2 separate regions of the Homo sapiens genome follow, and region 2 is linked to region 1. Evidence: fine-mapped expression QTL. Tissue or cell type: whole blood. Region 1 holds a variant in brackets; the other region holds the start of a gene. All regions are shown on one strand. Distances are between the middles of the regions.

The links. PIP is the estimated chance that this variant, and not a neighbour inherited with it, causes the effect. A credible set is the group of variants that fine-mapping cannot tell apart.
Region 2: it holds the start of ABCF3, and the variant in region 1 is the best candidate, but not a certain one, in a credible set for the expression of ABCF3 in whole blood (INTERVAL, PIP 0.82).

The regions. Positions count from the first base shown.
Region 1 is chr3:184,151,864-184,161,224 of GRCh38, forward strand. It overlaps DVL3 (dishevelled segment polarity protein 3), which reads left to right and starts at 3,514. Exons shown (of 15, transcript NM_004423.4): 1 at 3,514-3,933. The coding sequence starts at 3,773. RefSeq lists a silencer at 3,411-3,760 and enhancers at 4,098-4,975, 4,976-5,851, 9,034-9,361. The variant C/T (reference allele first, on the strand shown) is at 5,768.
Region 2 is chr3:184,180,828-184,190,129 of GRCh38, forward strand. ABCF3 (ATP binding cassette subfamily F member 3) reads left to right here and starts at 5,372. Exons shown (of 21, transcript NM_018358.3): 1 at 5,372-5,453; 2 at 5,680-5,827; 3 at 5,969-6,048; 4 at 6,570-6,616; 5 at 6,837-6,934; 6 at 7,034-7,156; 7 at 7,314-7,580; 8 at 7,934-8,014; 9 at 8,102-8,161; 10 at 8,261-8,317; 11 at 8,428-8,450; 12 at 8,561-8,616; 13 at 8,730-8,930; 14 at 9,028-9,104. The coding sequence starts at 5,381. It overlaps AP2M1 (adaptor related protein complex 2 subunit mu 1), which reads left to right. Exons shown (of 12, transcript NM_004068.4): 6 at 22-157; 7 at 258-399; 8 at 869-988; 9 at 1,085-1,220; 10 at 1,324-1,421; 11 at 1,930-2,041; 12 at 2,655-3,264. The coding sequence ends at 2,789. RefSeq lists enhancers at 2,357-2,871, 4,165-4,879, 5,357-5,676.

The DNA.
Region 1 (9,361 bases):
AGTGAGACTCCATCTAAAAAAAAAAAAAAAAAAAGATGGAAGCCTCCAGGGAAAAATTGAACTGATGGATTATCTAATAGCTTTGACTGAATGAACAAAATGTGTATTGAGAAACTATTAGATTACATGGGAAAAACTAATGATAGGTATAATATATTAAAACAAATGAAAACACAAGGCAATGATTAAAGTCAGAGGAAACAAAAAAGTTGTAAAGGAAACGATTATAAAACACACATGAGGCCAGCGCGGTGGCTCATGCCTGTAATCACAGCACTTTGGGAGGCCAAGGCAGGTGGATCACGAGGTCAAGAGATTGAGACCATCCTGGCCAACATGGTAAAACCCTGTCTCTACTAAAAATACAAAAATGAGTTGGGCAGGTATGGTGGCACATGCCTGTAATCCCAGCTACTCGGAGGCTGAGGCAGAATTATCGCTTGAACCCGGGAGGTGGAGGTTGCAATGAGCTGAGATCACATCACTGCACTCCAGCCTGGCGACAGAGTGAGACTCCATCAAAAACAAAAACAAAAACAAAACAAAAAAAACTCCACATGACTTAGCGGTGAACATTTGCTCATAGTCAAAATAAGGTCACTACTAAGTACTATATTGACTTAGCCAAAAAGTGTGCTTTCACTATTTTAAGAGGGAAGGGTAAGGTGGAAGACAGAGAATCATCAATCAAATTTGGAAATCAATAAGCAATGTCTAAAATGTATAAATCAAGAACAAGTATTATGAGCTAAAAAAAAGTACTAAGAGTGGTAGGGAAATAGGACAAAGAATTGCTCGGGTTTTTTGTTTTGTTTTTCTCACCACTATACCAATAAGGAGGACTGCTGTTTTGTTAAAAAGCTTTTTAAGGGCCAGGCACGGTGGCTCACACCTGTAATCCCAGCACTTTGGGAGGCCGAGGCAGGCAGATCACGAGATCAGGAGATCGAGACCATCCTGGCTAACACGGTGAAACCCCATCTCTACTACAAATGTAAAAAATTAGCCAGGTGTGGTGGCAGGCACCTGTAGTCCCAGCTACTCGGGAGGCTGAGGCAGGAGAATGGCATGAACCCGGGAGGCGGAGTTCACAGTGAGCCAAGATCGTGCCACTGCACTCCAGCCTGGGCGACAGAGCAACACTCCATCTCAAAAAAAAAAAAAAAAAAAAAAAAAAAAAAAAAAAGCCGGGCGTGGTGGCTTGCGCCTGTAGTCCCAGCACTTTGGGAGGCCGAGGCAGGTGGATCACGAGTTCAGATCAAGACCATCCTGTTTAACACAGTGAAACCCCGTCTCTACTAAAAAAAACACAAAAAATTTGGCGGGCGCCTGTGGTCCCAGCTGCTCGGGAGGCTGGCGTGAACTCAAGAGGCGGAGCTTGCAGTGAGCCGAGATTGTGCCACTGCACTCCACCCTGGGCGACAGAGTGAGACTCCATCTCAAAAAAAAAAAAAAAAAAAAAAAAAAAAAGCTGTTTAAATACTATTTGACTTCCAAACATATTACTTTGATAAAAAATGTAAAGAAGGTGAAGGAAAGGGTATGAAGTGACGATATACATAAGGTGTGTGCAGGGGCTAGCAAGTGGGTTCATTTTCCTGGAGTCAAAAATTTGGCCAGGATATGAGACAAAAGGCTGTAAAAGTAGGTAGAGGTTAGATTATGGGGGGCCTTGAATAGGGATATTTGGGGGCTTTGGGGAATGTGGAAAGGTTTCTGAGTAGAAGAGGTATCTGAATGATGTTGTTATTCTAGTGTTAATTTGGCAACAGTGTATAAAATGGAGTAGAAGGAGCCCATACTTAAGACCATAGCATCCAAGGCCCTATGTAATCTGGCGGGTCTATGTTTCCAGCCTCACCTAGGACTGTTCCTTTAGTCATGATGGCCTTCTTATTCCTCAAATGTAACATGTTTATTCCTGCCTTGAGCCTGTATATTGGCTGTGCCCTCTGCCTAGAAGGCTGTCACCCCAGATCTTCTCATAGCCACTTCATCCTTGCTATTTCTAGGTCTTTTTTTCTGGAAGAAGTTTTCTCTAACCAATCAGAAACCTCTTTCTCGTTTTGTTTTGGTTGTTTTGTTTTTGTTTTTGTTTGAGGCGGAGTCTCGCTCTGTCGCCCAGGCTGGAGTGCAGTGGTGGGATCTCGGCTCACTGCAAGCTCCACCTCCCGGGTTCAAGCGATTCTCCTGCCTCAGCCTCCCGAGTAGCTGGGACTACAGGCATGCGCCACCATGTCCAGCTAATTTTTGTATTTTTACTAGAGACGGGGTTTCACCATTTTGGCCAGGCTGGTCTCGAACTCCTAACCTCAGGTGATCCACCTGCCTCAGCCTCCCAAAATGTTGGAATTACAGGCATGAGCCATTGCGCCTGGCTTCCCCTGTCACTATCCCATCACTTTGTTTTACCTTCTTCATAGCAGTGGTCACTCTGAAGTTATGTATTTACAAGCCTATGTGCTTCCCTCCAGCTGAGGGAAGGTCCTGAGAGCAGCCTTGTCTGTCTCGCTATCGCTATATCTCATGCGATATGCCTTATACACAGTAGGCCTTCAGTATTTATTAAATGAATTAAAAGTTAAGGGGTGAGGAGATCTGTGAGGAACCGGCTATACCTAGTTCTGGAGTTCTGGTTTGAGACTTACTGTCTTAGGCATGCATGCATCCACTTATCTTTTTTTTTGGGGGGGGGCGAGGGGGGATGGAGTTTCACTTTTGTTGCCCAGGCTGGAGTGCAAAGGCAGGATCTCGACTCACCGATCTCGGCTCACCGCAACCTCCGCCGCCCGTGTTCAAGCGATTCTTCTGCCTCAGCCTCCCGAGTAGCTGAGATTACATGCATGCGCCACCACGCCCGGCTAATTTTTTTGTATTTTTAGTAGAGACAGGGTTTCTCCATGTTGGTCAGGCTGGTCTTGAACTCTCGACCTCGGGCGATCCGCCCGCCTTGGCCTCCCAAAGTGCTGGGATTAGAAGCGTGAGCCACCGCGCCCGGGCCCCACTTATTCCGCATTCAACCCATTTATTAAACCACTACCTTGCAACTGGACGCTAAGGTTATAGGGAGGAATCAGAACTGGATGCTGTCCTTCTCTCGAGATCAGTTTAGTAGACTCAGTGACAGCAGTTGTGCTTCTCAAGAAACACTGAAGGGCCATGTTGAGGTCATTCTCCTCCAGGGATCCAGAGTCAGACCCACCCTCTTTCCCCAGACCATTTCTGGGGACCAAAGCAATCCCTGCATTCCACTCTTCCTGGACTGCAGAGGAGTCGCCGATCCCACTTGGGTCCGGAGTCAGGGCCTTCAGGGGTCCGGGAACGCCGCCATCCCGGTGAATCTCCCCTTCCGTTTCTAGGGACCCGGGACCGGAGCGCCGCGGCCCGGCCAGTGGGCGGGAAACCCTGCCATCTGCCGCGACGCCGGCGCCTCTCCGCGGCGGCCGGGGGCGGGGCGCGCCGGGGCGGGGCCGCGCCGGGCCGGAGGAGGGGAGCGGGCCCGGACGAAGCCCTGGGCCGGGAGGGCCGCGGCCACCGGAAGAGTCGCGGTCGCCAGTCCAGTCGGGAGAGTGGGGAGCGGAAGCGGCGGCCGCGGCGGCGGCGGGCGGCGCTGGGACCCGGTAGCGGCCGGAGAACAAGGGAGCTGGCGCCGCCAGCAGCCGCCGAGCTGGGTTGAGCCGCTGGGCCGCGCCGCGCGCCGCCGCCGTCTGGGAGGCTCGGCCCGGCCGCCCGAGCAGGCCGCGCGCGGGCCGCCGGGCCCGAGGCCAGAGCCATGGGCGAGACCAAGATCATCTACCACTTGGATGGGCAGGAGACGCCGTACCTTGTGAAGCTGCCCCTGCCCGCCGAGCGCGTCACCTTGGCGGACTTTAAGGGCGTTTTGCAGCGACCCAGCTATAAGTTCTTCTTCAAGTCTATGGACGACGATTTCGGGTGAGGATGGCCCCCGCCCCGCCTCCGGGAGCCCCGGCCGCTCTGGCTTCTAAGGGATGACGCGGTCCGTTTCGACTTGCCTCGCTACACCGGCTCCTAGCCCCGCTCTGACTTCTAGGGGCGACTCGGCCCATTTGGGCCCCTTTGGTTCCAGCCCCAGTAGCAACTCCCGTTTACCTCTGAAGAGGGGACGTTGGCCTCCCTTGTTTAAGGGGACGTCCAATTCCCCACTAGCAATCAGAGTTCCTGCCGGTGCGGTCCCCTTACCTCTTCAGAGACCAGTGGCCCACAGAGACAGACACACCCCCCCTCCACCTAGTTTCAGAGCCCGAGTCCCCCATCCTCCTCCTGCCGAGGAGCCAGAGCCACCTTTTTCCGCACAGACTTGGGTCGTGTGGCCCTCGTTCTTCGCCCCCTTCATCTTTTCAGCAGCACAGCTCCCAGCCATATTTGGAGTATGCTGCATCTGAGGGCTCTGCTGGGACTTTGAGCTGGGGGAGGGGTGTCGGGGGTGCTCGGGCGCCTGGCCGCGAGCGGGGTCTGCAGATCTGATGTTTATCTAGCTGCCTGCCCTCTCCTTTGTGGGCTGTTGTGGGTGTTGTCACCGGAACAGAGAGCCTGACCCCTGCGGAGTAGTCCTCACTGACCCAGGTGCTGATCTTTCCTCCAATTCGGGCTTTTTTCCTCCAGTTGGTGGCCAGTGGAGAGACGTTAGGAAGGGCCTGGGGCCTGGGTGGGATAGCCAGGAAGAGTTTCTTGGTGTTCTCTATCTTCCCCTCCCTGGTGGGGTCTTCCCTTCCACCCAGCTGCAGAGATCTGGACAGGCACAGTTTGGAAGCAGTCACTTTCCCTTTAAGAGGGGATGGAATGTTGGAGCCGGAAGGTTCTGAAGCAGCTGGCCTGGGAAGAGGGGGGCCTGGCTGATCCCCCTCGAACCCCCCCAACTCCCAGGAGACTGGGGGAGGGGGAGGCGCCCACACTTGCCTGCCGCCTCACTAACTGGGCGCTGGGCCTGGAGGCGGTGGGGAAGGCCCCTCCAGGCCTGAAGGCTGCCTCTCCAGCCCTAGCCTGAGGCCTGCACTGCTCTTTGGAGCTGAGGCCCCACAGCCAAGAGGAGACATTCTTCTCCCCAGTGTTCATCTGTCTGGCTTCTCTCCCAAGCCCCTGGCCCACCTAGCACTAGGAAGCAAGCACCTTCTGTCTAATGCCTGGCATGTTTTGCTGTCACCTTCTGCCCTGGAACTCAGGGTTGGATGAGCCCCTGAAATCATGTGTGTGAGAGTGCTTTGTACAGTGGGCAGTGCTTTGTAGATTCTAACTATTCTTGTTTCTGTTGTTGTTCCTGCCCTGGGGTGGGGTGCTCCTGGTGTGATAATGATTGTCTGCCTTCAGCCCAGAGACAGACACCTCTAATTGGAAGATTCTGAGGAGGGATGGATCTAGAAGGGGTCTGGGTGAGGGGGTGGATACTTTGGCCTGGCAAGAGAAGAATAGGGTTAGAAGGGATCAAGCTACTGCCTCCACATAAGGAATGGGGGAAGATGAGCCAGAGTCCAGTGCCCTGGGGCCACCTCAGATCCAGATGCCTTGAGGGACTAAGATAGGCTGTCTCTCCACCCTGTACTTATCTCCAGACCCACTGGACCTGGCCCCTGCCTCCTAAGCCTGGACAACTCTGGGCTGCTCTCCCAATCCCAAGGCCTAACTGCAGTTTTAAGAGGGCCCCCATTACATCCAGTCACTGTTACTTAATATTTTTCTTTAAATCCATTGTCAGTCCACTTACTGTTTTTCTTAGCTTGAACCAAGCAATAATATGAAACCATAGGTCTGA[C/T]TTTTCTGTTTATATTTCTTTCTAAAATATGTTTAACATAAATATTTAATGATTGAACTAAGCAATGTTAATCTGTGTGCCACCTGAAGCCATCTTGCAAACATCAGTGGTACTTGAACCAAAATCAGAGTTGGACCATTTTAGCAGGGTTGAAAACAGTATTAAAAATGAAGTGGAGGAGATGGATTCTGTTTGTATCCCCAGAAGGATAAATGAGCAGGGGAACTGATAGAGCTGTCTTGTCACAGAGGACTAATAGCTGAAGAGCATATATATATGTTTCATTTATTTAACACACGCCTTTTATGCTTAGTGTGCCAGGGACTAATCTAAATGCTTTTCAAATCTTCACTCATTTAATCTTCGAAACAGCCTTATGAAATAGATAGCGTAATAGTATCTCTAGTTTACAAATGAAACTCTGTCAGGCATGGTGGCTCACACCTGTAATCTCAGCAATTTGGGAGGCTGAGGTGGGAGGATTGCTTGAGGCCAGGAATCTGAGACCAGCCTTGGCAACATAGCAAGACCCCATCTCTACAAAAAAATTTTTTAATTAGCCAGGCATGATGCTTTGTGCCTGTAGTCCCAACTTGGGAGGCTGAGACAGGAGGATCACTTGAGCATAGGAGTTTGGGGCTGCAGTGAGCTGTGATGGTGCCACTGTACTCCAGCCTGGAAAATAGAGTGGGACCGTGTTTCAGAAAAAAAAAAAAAAGGAAACTAGAGCACAGAAAGCTTAAGTAACTTGCCTAAGGTCACACAGCTAATAAGAGGCAGAGCAGAGCTTGCTTTGACATCAGGAATCTGGATCCAAAAATCTAAATCCTTAATCGCACAATTTTAGGTGTCATTATTATCACCATTTTACTGATGAATCCTCTCCGAGGGAGGTGGTAAGCCTTGGAAAACTGTAGAGGTGACAAGGCCACCATTTCTCCGAGCCCCACAAGAGGAAGGTCAGGCGGAGGTCAGTGACCCTAGAGGAAGGAAAGTGGGTCAGAGGAGGAAGGCTGCTGTCTCTCCAGTTTCTCCACTCCTGGCTCAGCCTTTGAGGTGCTAGTTGTGAGGCTCCTCAAGTCCCATCTGGTCTACAAAAGTATTTGTCAAGCTCAGGGTAGGCCCAGCCATCTTTTTAAATTTTTTTTCTTTTTTTTTTTTTTTTGAGGAGTTTTGCTCTCGTCACCCAGGCTGGAGTGCAGTGGCGCAATCTCGGCTCACTGCAACCTTCGCCTCCCGGGTTCAGGTGATTCTCCTGCCTCAGCCTCCCAAGTAGCTGGGATTACAGGCATGAGCCACCATGCCTGGCTAATTTTAGTATTTTTGGTAGAGATGGGGTTTCACCACGTTGGCCAGGCTGGTCTGGAACTCCTGACCTCAAGCAATCCACCCACCTCGGCCTCCCCAAGTGCTGGGATTACAGGTGATGAGCCACCGCGCCTGGCCTGCCATCTTAAGTTATTTGAGAAATGGAGGAAGGATAAACATTTTCAGCATTGAGGGCATGGTGGATGGTTCATAGAAGTAAGGTGCCTACTGCTAGTCTGGCCTTGAGCTGTGAGAGAGGGCAGCATGGCGATCAGGTCATTAGCTGTGTGGCTTCCTGCTCCACTGTCCTCCCTCTGGGCCTTCCACCTGCAGACTCTTCTTCCCCTGTCTCCTCCAGGTTCAAATTCTCCTGTCTTCTGGGTTGAGCTTTTCTGTGAGAACTGTCATGGCACTCTCTTATTTTATCCTTTTTTTTTTTTTTTGAGATGGAGCCTGGCTTTGTCACCCAGGCTGGGGTACAGTGGTGCGACCTTGGCTCACTGCAACCTCTGCCTCCCGGGTTCAAACGATTCTCCTGCTTCAGCCTCACAAATAGCTGGGACTACTGGTGTGTGCCACCACACCTGGCTAATTTTTGTATTTTAAATAGAGATGGGGTTTTGCTACGTTAGCCAAGCTAGTCACGAACTCTTGACCTCAAGTGATCCGCCCACCTTGGCCTCCCAAAGTGCTGGGATTACAGGTGTGAGCCACCGTGCCTGGTATATTTTATCTTTATATCCTGACACCTGTGTAACACTCAGCAGATGTCTATCCATTGAACACATGTGCTGCTCCTACGGCTCCAACCACTTCCTGGATTGCAGTATATTTCCATGAACTATCCACTGGACCATAGTCTCTCTGAGAACAAGGCAGGCTCTGGGTCTGATGTTTCATGAGAAAACCTACAATAGCAAGCTCAGGACCTGAAACCCACTGGGCCCTCAGCCAAAGCATTTTATTTTATTTTATTTTTATTTTTTTATTTTTTATTTTTATTTTATTGTATGTTTTTTGAGAGGGAGTCTCGCTGTGTCGCCCAGGCTGGAGTGCAGTGGCACGATCTTGGTTCACTGCAAGCTCCGCCTCCTGGGTTCACGCCATTCTCCTCCCTCAGCCTCCCGAGTAGCTGGGACTACAGGTGCCCGCCACCACGCCCTGCTAATTTTTTTTTTTTTTTTTTGGTATTTTTAGTAGAGACGGGGTTTCACCGTATTAGCCAGGATGGTCTTGATCTCCTGACTCATGATCCGCTCACCTTGGCCTCCCAAAGTGCTGGGATTACAGGCCTGAGCCACCGTGCCCTGCCAGTCAAAGCATTTTAATTGGATGAACAATGAATGATGAACAGGTTTATTTGCTTTGCCCTTAATAATGTATACGTAGTTAGAAATAGTGTATGGATCCTGCTAAAAATGGACAATATAATTAGCTTTTACTGTATGCCTGGATCATGCCAGGCATTTAAGGATCCCTTTTACCAGGATGAGACAAAGGCTTGGAGAAATTAAGAAACTTCTCTAAGATAAGAGGGCCAGTAAGTGGTAGAATTGGAATTTGAGTCATTATTTGTTTGACTCCATTTGGGGTATGAGTGTGTGTGTGTGTGTGTAAGTGCTATGTAAACCCCAGCCATTCAGCTCCATGGTGGGAGAGTAAGACCTGTCTGAGGTTCCCCAAAGCTGCTGAAGATCAGCTGATTGTTTTGAGTCAGCAGAGCCTTGGTGGCCTGTCGATGACCCCCAGAAAGAGAGGAAACGTGTAGTGTGGAGCAGTGTGGTGGGGCCTGCCAGGGGAGCAGGGAGGTAGGGACTCAGCAGCAATTTCCCCCAGACAGGCAGACCCTATCCAAAGCAGGCTGTGCCATGTGGCCCACATATTCCCTTTTCCTTTGAGCCCTGTGGGGCTGCCAACCTGGAGTACCCTGTGGCCAGAGTGGCTGGTGGGTCTGAGCTACCTCTGTGTCCCTTCTTTCTAGCCTGTCCTTTCTACACTTTCTGCCATGGTGGGCCGCAGTAGGATGATTTGGGCTGCTTTCCGAGGGTCGCTGTGGCTCTGGGAATGATAGAGGAGCCAGAGCTGGATGGGAGTGGGGAGGGCAGGCTTGGCCTGTGAACTTGGCTGTGAGTCCAAAAATGTGAGCATCACAAGGGAGCCAAGCACATTCCCAGCTCTGGGCAGAAGCTGCTCTAAGAACAAGGGGGGCCAGGCACGGCGGCTCACGCCTGTAATCCCAGCATTTGGGGAGGCCGAGGTGGGCGGGTCACCTGAGGTCAGGAGTTC
Region 2 (9,302 bases), 29 kb after region 1:
TTTGTTTCTGCCCTCATGTAGACAAAAGAAGAGCAGTCACAGATCACCAGCCAGGTAACTGGGCAGATTGGCTGGCGGCGAGAGGGTATCAAGTATCGTCGGAATGAGCTCTTCCTGGATGTGCTGGAGAGTGTGAACCTGCTCATGTCCCCACAAGGTGAGGTCCCTCTCACGACAAAGTTGGAGGGGGCCCAGGGCAGGATCCTGGGCCTGCCTGCCTGACTCCGCTGCTCCCCATTTATCTGTTCCATCACCAGGGCAGGTGCTGAGTGCCCATGTGTCGGGCCGGGTGGTGATGAAGAGCTACCTGAGTGGCATGCCTGAATGCAAGTTTGGGATGAATGACAAGATTGTTATTGAAAAGCAGGGCAAAGGCACAGCTGATGAAACAAGCAAGAGGTGCCTGAGGCAGGAGAGCTGGTGGGAGAGGGTGTCCCTTGGAGGGCTCAGTGGGGTCTAGTGAACCACAAGTTTCTTCTGGATTTCATTCCCACTGTAATTGCAAACTCTGTTCCTGACGGTAAGCCTGGCTGTTCGCTCTTGACATTAGTGCTACGAGAGATGAGGGGATCGTCCTCAGAGAGCAAGCCCCTTTGTTTGGTCCCTAGGACCAAGGCCTTTTCTGTACATACTGACAGCCTCTGCCCAGTGTGCCTGAAACACCCAGGTCCCTAGCAGAAGGAGCCCCAAGAGATGAGCTTGCAAGGCTTCCCTCTCATCCCAAGCTCTGGGGCAGACCTCCGAGTCACAAAGCTGCATTCTAGCAGCTTTTCATAGTCTCTGGTGCCAGCCTGGGGTGGAGTGGTCTCCCAGCATGACAGCTGTCATTCTCCTGTACCAATGAGACCTCTTCTGCCCCTGCTTGCAGCGGGAAGCAATCAATTGCCATTGATGACTGCACCTTCCACCAGTGTGTGCGACTCAGCAAGTTTGACTCTGAACGCAGCATCAGCTTTATCCCGCCAGATGGAGAGTTTGAGCTTATGAGGTGCCATTGGGGTGTGAGGAGGCAGCTAGTGCTGCTGGCAGACTGGGGAGAGGAAGTGGGTCAGCTCTTTGGTAACCTTGCTTCCCATCCCTTAAGGTATCGCACAACCAAGGACATCATCCTTCCCTTCCGGGTGATCCCGCTAGTGCGAGAAGTGGGACGCACCAAACTGGAGGTCAAGGTGGTCATCAAGTCCAACTTTAAACCCTCACTGCTGGCTCAGAAGATCGAGGTGAGGACAGGGGGCTCAAGGAGGAGGAAGAACTTGTCCCTAGGAATAAAGGTAGCTGATGTCACAGCTTGACAGAGCTCCCTGACAGGTGTGTCACTTCTAGGTGAGGATCCCAACCCCACTGAACACAAGCGGGGTGCAGGTGATCTGCATGAAGGGGAAGGCCAAGTACAAGGCCAGCGAGAATGCCATCGTGTGGAAGTGAGTCTTTCCTTCATTAGGCCACAGCAGGGCTCAAGATCCCAGTATACCCTCTTGTTTTCAGCTTTGATCCTTCTGAATGAGGGGCAGGGGAGTGTGCCTGTTTGCTTTTCTAGGAGCCTCTGCTTGTACTGTCAGTCTTTATACCTCCATGTGAGTATGTACACGCCTGCATTTGGGTTCATGCACGTGCTTATTTTTTAAGATGCTTTGGCATTTCCCTTTGTAATGTATACATTACAAAGGGAATACATTGCCTTTGTAATGTATCTGTGAAGCAGACAAAGCAAACGATAGCATGTCCAAGTGTCTAGGCAGAAACTGCATCCTGTTGTTCTAAAGAAGTAGACCCAAGTTTCCATAGCAAGTGGTTAGCAGGGTCCTGACCACTTCTCCTTGTTCTGGCACCTCCTGCAAGCTCCTGGGCTCTCTCCTTGCTTGAAATGGGCAACTGCCCTTGAAACTCCTCCAAGCCCCAATGGGCTGCCCATTGTCCCTGTGTTCCCAGGATCAAGCGCATGGCAGGCATGAAGGAATCGCAGATCAGCGCAGAGATTGAGCTTCTGCCTACCAACGACAAGAAGAAATGGGCTCGACCCCCCATTTCCATGAACTTTGAGGTATGGCAGAGGAGGGGCCTAGAGTCATGCCAGGGTATGCTGGAAGACCTCTTAGAGATCATTCCGATAAACTGCTGCACCTTAGAGGTGAGGAAACTGAGGCCTAGAAAGAAGAACTGGCTTTAATTCATAGATCCATTCTTCCCCTTTCAAGCCTCTTAGTAGAAATTACTATTTGTGATGAGGCAAATCTTTTACTTCTCTCGGCTTGTCCTAACACAGTTCTTTCAAAAAACTTAGATTGTTTAAATGCCAGGTAAGACACAAAGTTTACTTACAGACAGGATAATGGGCTGACTTTGCTTTGCGCATGTTAGACATAATTTTCTCCACCTTATTTTTAAGTTCATAATATTGAGCAGGATAAGTATGTTCTAAAGCAGTTCTTTGGTTGCTGTCTCCTGCTGATTAAAGGAACTGATTCAAGGTGTCACAGGTAGGGCTTTCTTCTTTAGTCACCTCTTAGAAGGTCCCACGCCGCCCCAGCTTCTTTCAGGACCCCAGCCATACAAACACCTGTAGTAGCGATGAAGTAGGGCAGGGCAACGGGACTTCCCAGAGGAGAGCGGCTGTAAGAGGAAGGCCACATTTCTAACTAGCTCTCCTTGCCCAGGTGCCATTCGCGCCCTCTGGCCTCAAGGTGCGCTACTTGAAGGTGTTTGAACCGAAGCTGAACTACAGCGACCATGATGTCATCAAATGGGTGCGCTACATTGGCCGCAGTGGCATTTATGAAACTCGCTGCTAGCTGCCACTAGGCAGCTAGCCCACCTCCCCAGCCACCCTCCTCCACAGGTCCAGGTGCCGCTCCCTCCCCCACCACACATCAGTGTCTCCTCCCTCCTGCTTTGCTGCCTTCCCTTTGCACCAGCCCGAGTCTAGGTCTGGGCCAAGCACATTACAAGTGGGACCGGTGGAGCAGCCCCTGGGCTCCCTGGGCAGGGGAGTTCTGAGGCTCCTGCTCTCCCATCCACCTGTCTGTCCTGGCCTAATGCCAGGCTCTGAGTTCTGTGACCAAAGCCAGGTGGGTTCCCTTTCCTTCCCACCCCTGTGGCCACAGCTCTGGAGTGGGAGGGTTGGTTGCCCCTCACCTCAGAGCTCCCCCAAAGGCCAGTAATGGATCCCCGGCCTCAGTCCCTACTCTGCTTTGGGATAGTGTGAGCTTCATTTTGTACACGTGTGACTTCGTCCAGTTACAAACCCAATAAACTCTGTAGAGTGGAGTTGCTGGCTTAGTGTTGATGTGGGAGCTACATGGGGAGGGAACTGGTGTTGCTCTCCGTGCAGTTTTCTGTACTGAATACTCTAAAGGCTCTTTCCTTGTCTTGTCCCAGTTAGGCCCCTCCTGGGCCATCCAAGCCCTTATCCTTGTGGGTTCTGGGCCCAGGTTTCCTGGCTCCTCTTAGAAAGCCTCAAGGGCATGCAGCCGCAGCGGGCCCCAGTACCCTGGGGATAGATTCTTTCCCTAGCTCCTTTTTATTCCCCCTGGTCCTCGGACTCCTAGGCTCAAGAGATCTTACCTGCCCCAGCCTCTGGAGTAGCTGGGATCACAAGCACGCACCACCACAGCACCCAGCTCTTTCTCTAATTCTTAGGCAGATGTTTTCTAATTAGATTAAGCATAAATTAAGTGTGAAGTTTACATTTGGTCTTGTAGCCATCCTAAGAAATTGACCTTTTAATTCCATCATTTACCCAAGCTTCCCAAATCTTGCTGACTGGGTGGTAGGAGGAAAGATTTGCAAGGAGAATAACATAATGGACTGGGCGCGGTGGCTCACACTGTAATCCCAGCACTCTGGGAGGCCGAGACGGGTGGATCACCCGAGGTCCGGAATTCGAGACCAGCCTGACCAACATGGGGAAACCTCGTCTCTACTAAAATTACAAAATTAGCCGGGCGTGGTGGTGCATGCCGGTAATCCCAGCTATTCGGGGGCTGAGGCAGGAGAATCGCTCGAACCCAGGAGGTGGAGGCTGCGGTGAGCCAAGATCACGCCACTGTACTCCAGCCTGGGCAACAAGAGCGAAACTCCTTCTCAAATTAAAAAAAAAAAAAAAAAGAATATAATGAATCTCCATGTCTCATCACCCAGCTTCAACTATGATCAATGCGTGGCCAGTTCCTTAATATCACATCCAGTTTGTGTTCACTTAACCAGGTGTCTTATCAAATTTTTCCAGATAAGGTCCATTGTGGTTGGTTAATGCTCCTCAAATTTTAAAAATTGATGTTTCCCTTCAGGTCTTGCAATTTTGTGGAAGAAACCAGAGTTCTGTAGTTTACCACATCAGAATTTGCCTGTTGTCCCCATGAAGTCACTTAACATATTCCTCTTTACCTGTATTTCCTGTAAAATGGTTCAATATCGGGATTGATGCCTCATGATGGCAATGTTTAATCCAAAGGGATGAATGGGTAATAATGTAATTTTCGGTGCCACTTTTAGAGACCAATTGGAGGAATATTCACGTTAAATATAAAGCAGTAGCATCATTTTGGAGGAAATTCCTAACTTCCCGAGGGAATCGGTGAAAGGAAATAGCCTTTTATTGGCATTTATTGAGTGCAGAGAAGTCTGCTCAGGGTGTAGGTAGGGAATAATTTATACAGGCCACGTTGTCCTGGTTTTCTTGCCCTTTGGCGGTGGATTTGGTCGTGCCCTGGGGTGGTGGAAGAACTGAATGGGCTTAATTCACAAAGGTCGGCTGAATTACACAGTGAAAAGGCGGTCGCGGCGGGGAGGCGGGTGGCGCTGGCCACCAGGCTGAGAAGCCCGTAGGGTCTGGGGACCCGCGAAAGCAAAGCACTGAGCAGGGGGCTTCTGAGAGTCAGGGACCGGGGTGAGTCAGCAAAGCTCTGGGCAGGCTCCAAAATGGGCCTGACTGGGTACGCACCAGCAGCAGACGCGCCTCGAGGGAGCGCATAAAACCTGGCAAAGCCAAAGTGCTTTATCAGCCGCCTGCCTCTTGGGAGGCTCCCACCCGCCAGACCACGGGTGCCTCGCGGCCCCGATAAACCTTGAGCTCCCAGCCTTTGCCCCACCCCTCGCTCCCGGAACTCCACCTCCCAGAAGGCAGCGAGAACCGCACATGTGGCTAATCTTTCAGCGGAAAAGGTGTCGCGCACGCGCAGAGAGCGCGGCTCCGGCGCAGACTCGGCGCCTCTCCTCAAGGCCCCGCTCGCCCCGCCCACCGGGCTCTGCGCACTCCGCTCCTTTCCTGCGTCACCGCTACACATGCGCCTTGCAAGGAAGGGCGAGATTTCGGGGGCAGGGCGGGGGGCGGGCCTAGGCCGGGGTCTCACAGCGACTGCGCGGACGGGTTCCTGAGTGGAACATGGCGACTTGCGCCGAAATCCTGCGGAGCGAGTTCCCCGAAATTGACGGACAAGTCTTCGACTACGTGACCGGTAAGCAGAACTGAATCGGCCGGCTGGGGAGACCGAAGTGGAGGCCGGGGGAAAGTCTAAGCGAGCGTCGTGCCCGGGACTGTTGCCAGGCCTCTCCTCTGCATGACCTCTTGTCCCGGGGGCTGGTTGGGTCTGGAGCCTGGACTGGGGCCTCTGTCTGGGGTCTGAAACTGCTTGTGTGTCCACCCTACCCGATACCTTCCTCGTTCTACCACGCCCTGCCCAGGCGTCTTGCACAGCGGCAGCGCGGACTTCGAGTCTGTGGATGACCTGGTGGAAGCTGTAGGGGAACTATTGCAAGAGGTGTCCGGGGACAGCAAGGATGACGCGGGCATCAGGGCCGTGTGCCAGCGCATGTACAACACTCTGCGTCTGTATGTGCCAGGGAGTAGGGGTTGATGGGGGCGAAGGGACGGCGAACGGTCCGGAGACAAGAGGTGGGGGAGGAAGATCTGATGGCCATAGAGCTTTTCCCTCAACTCCTAACTCTGCGCTTTCTATCCCTACCCACATAGGGCTGAGCCACAAAGCCAGGGAAATAGCCAGGTGCTACTGGACGCCCCTATCCAGTTGTCAAAGATAACGGAGAACTACGGTGAGAGTGAGGGGAGGTTGAACTAACTGCCCCCCTGTGCTTTTCTCCGCCCCCAACCATCTGCTGCCTGCAGCTTAGGGCTCCTACGTCTTTTCCACAGGACAAGGTTGTAGGAGCTAGTTGATGTCTTTACCGAGGGCAGAAGAGCCCATGATGGGGGTGGGGAGGAGGTTGGAGGGTTCTCCCTCCAAGCTCTTGGGTAGGATAGGAAGCATAAGAGCCTGGAGCTGGACAGACTTGCTTTCACCCCCAGTTTTGCAACTTGCTAACCAGCTGCATGATCTTGTAAGAGTTGGTTATCTGTCCCCAGCCTTGTCTATGCCTCTGTATCCTTCTACGTGAGTTTTGTTTTGTTTTGTTTTGTTTTGTTTTTAGTGCAGGGAAGATAATAGCCATCTATCTGCAGTATTATAAGGTTTTGTAGAAAACATCTGTGTCTGTGCCTGGTTCCTATTAGTCACTCAAAATGTTAGTTTCCCTTCCCTCAGGGAGAAGGTGACTGCTTTTCTTATCGCTTACAGACTGTGGAACCAAACTTCCAGGACTGCTAAAGAGGGAACAGTCCTCGGTGAGGAGGAGGAAGCAAGGGAGGGGACTGTCTGTGATGGGGTTGGGAGTTGACTGTCTAATTGGAGTATCTTTTGGGGGGATTTCTGACTATGTCTTTTCCTGAGCCTTTGAGTCTGTTCATCATGGGTAAGTTAAGAGGGTTTACTCGAGATGTTCTCTCTTGGGGTTCCTTTCTGAGCCTACACCCGAGAGTGAAGTCGATGTGTTTGGACCCTTAGACAGTGAATGCAAAGAAGTTAGAGAAGGCCGAGGCTCGACTTAAGGCAAAGCAGGAGAAGCGCTCAGAGAAGGACACGCTCAAGACCAGCAACCCTCTGTGAGTGGGGGAAGCATGGCTCAGAAGAGAGCAGAGCAGCTTTTGCCTGGACAGAAGGTGGTGGGGAGCACTAAGAGCTGTCCATTTCTCCCTTTAAAGAGTCTTAGAAGAGGCATCAGCCAGCCAGGCAGGCAGCAGAAAGGAGAGTCGGTTGGAATCATCTGGCAAGAACAAATCCTATGATGTGCGAATTGAGAACTTTGATGTGTCTTTTGGCGATAGGTGAGGGAATAGTGGTGGCAGGGGTTGGCTTTCTTTTTCTAATTAGAGGACAATTTGGAGAGGTGAAACGGGGCTATAAACAATGTTAGGTTTGTCATTAAACTTGCTGTGCACCTATTTCTAGAGCATCTTTGGTCTCCTTTCTCCACTCCTGCAGAGTACTGCTGGCTGGAGCGGATGTGAACCTGGCATGGGGCCGCCGTTACGGGCTGGTGGGGCGGAATGGGTTGGGGAAGACAACGTTACTGAAGATGCTGGCCACCCGGAGTCTGCGGGTTCCAGCCCACATTTCCCTGCTGCACGTTGAGCAAGAGGTTGCTGGAGATGACACTCCTGCCCTGCAGAGTGTGCTGGAGAGTGACAGTGTGCGAGAGGATTTGCTACGGAGGGAGCGGGAGCTCACTGCCCAGATTGCTGCTGGCAGGTGAGGACTCCCGGCTAGGGAGTAACTAGCAGCCGCTGTCGCTTACAGAGCGCCTGCCGTCCTGGAACAATCCATAATTTGCATGTACATCCTAGTAATCAGCAGAGCTTAGAACTTGGCACTCTGGGACTCAGAAGCCCTTGTTCTTTCCACAGTGCCCATTGCCCTTTCTTGTTCTTTCCACAGTGCCCATTTCCATAGTGCCCAAGGTAATGAGCACTGTGCAAACCCTTCCTGTATTCTCTTCCTCTTCCAGCCACAAGGTAGCCAATGGCCTTTCCAACGGTATAGGGTGCAGGACATCCTCCTAGACTGCCCCTGCTTAGGCCAATTGCTGTTTCTCCTCCCTCCAGGGCGGAGGGCTCTGAAGCTGCAGAGCTGGCAGAAATCTATGCCAAACTGGAGGAGATTGAGGCTGACAAGGCACCTGCCAGGTATTTAAAGCTCCCCCTCCCTCCTTCAGATTTCCTTTCCCTTCTGTGGACTGTTCCAACTGAGTTCTTCGATTTCTTCTCTACTAGGGCATCAGTCATTCTCGCTGGGCTTGGCTTTACCCCTAAAATGCAGCAGCAGCCCACCCGGTGAGTGACCCTTGCCATTCTTGGCTTTGAACCCTGTTGTCTCAGCCCCTTCCTGCCCTGATGAACACCCACCCATAATGTGACTCCATCATTCTTTAGGGAGTTCTCAGGTGGCTGGAGGATGAGGCTGGCCCTGGCCCGGGCCCTCTTTGCTAGGTGAGTCTCCTGGGCCAGTGTATGAAGCCCTATGGAAGATTGGTCTTAGCTCTTGGGAGGTGGCATGAGTTGCTGACCTAAAACCTCAGGCCATGTATTGTTTTTCATAGGCCAGATCTTCTGCTGTTAGATGGTGAGTTTGAAATGGGGCACCCTGACTTTAGGATGGGCAGGGGTGGTAGCATCCAAGTTCCTAGTTCTCCAGCCCTTCAATCCCAAGTGTGTGCTCCCCTGCTTCTCCAGAACCTACAAACATGCTGGATGTCAGGGCCATCCTGTGGCTGGAGAATTACCTGCAGGTGAGTGCCTGTGGGTGCTGGAGTGTGTTGGGGAAAGGCGGCCTCCAAGATACCTGGGGGCCTGAGAACTGACTGCCCTCCCAAACCGGGCCTGCTGTCCTGTGACCCCTCAGACGTGGCCCTCCACCATCCTAGTCGTCTCCCACGACCGCAACTTCTTGAATGCCATCGCCACAGACATCATCCACCTGCACAGCCAGCGGCTAGATGGTTACCGGGGAGACTTTGAGACCTTCATCAAGAGTAAGCAGGAGCGGCTGCTCAACCAGCAGCGTGAATATGAGGCGCAGCAGCAGTATCGCCAGCACATCCAGGTGTGGGGCCTGGCAGGGCTGGGGGTCCCATCCCAGGGGTTCCAGAGTGGGGGATAGTGGGGGAATTTGACCAATGCCTACACTCCTCCACCTGCAGGTTTTCATTGACCGGTTTCGCTACAATGCCAACAGGGCCTCTCAAGTGCAGAGTAAACTCAAGATGCTGGAGAAGCTGTGAGTACAGCATCCTTGGCCAGGGCCTGACTCCTGTTCTCTTCGTCTCCTTCCGCATTTGCACGCCACCCTTGCCCTACCATTCTAGGTCTCCCCTTCGCTAGAAGCCAACTGTGACTTCCTCCTCTGCTGGGAAGCAGAGTATTCCACACTGTTCTTGGAGGGCTAATCTTGACTAGCACATGGCAACCACTAATT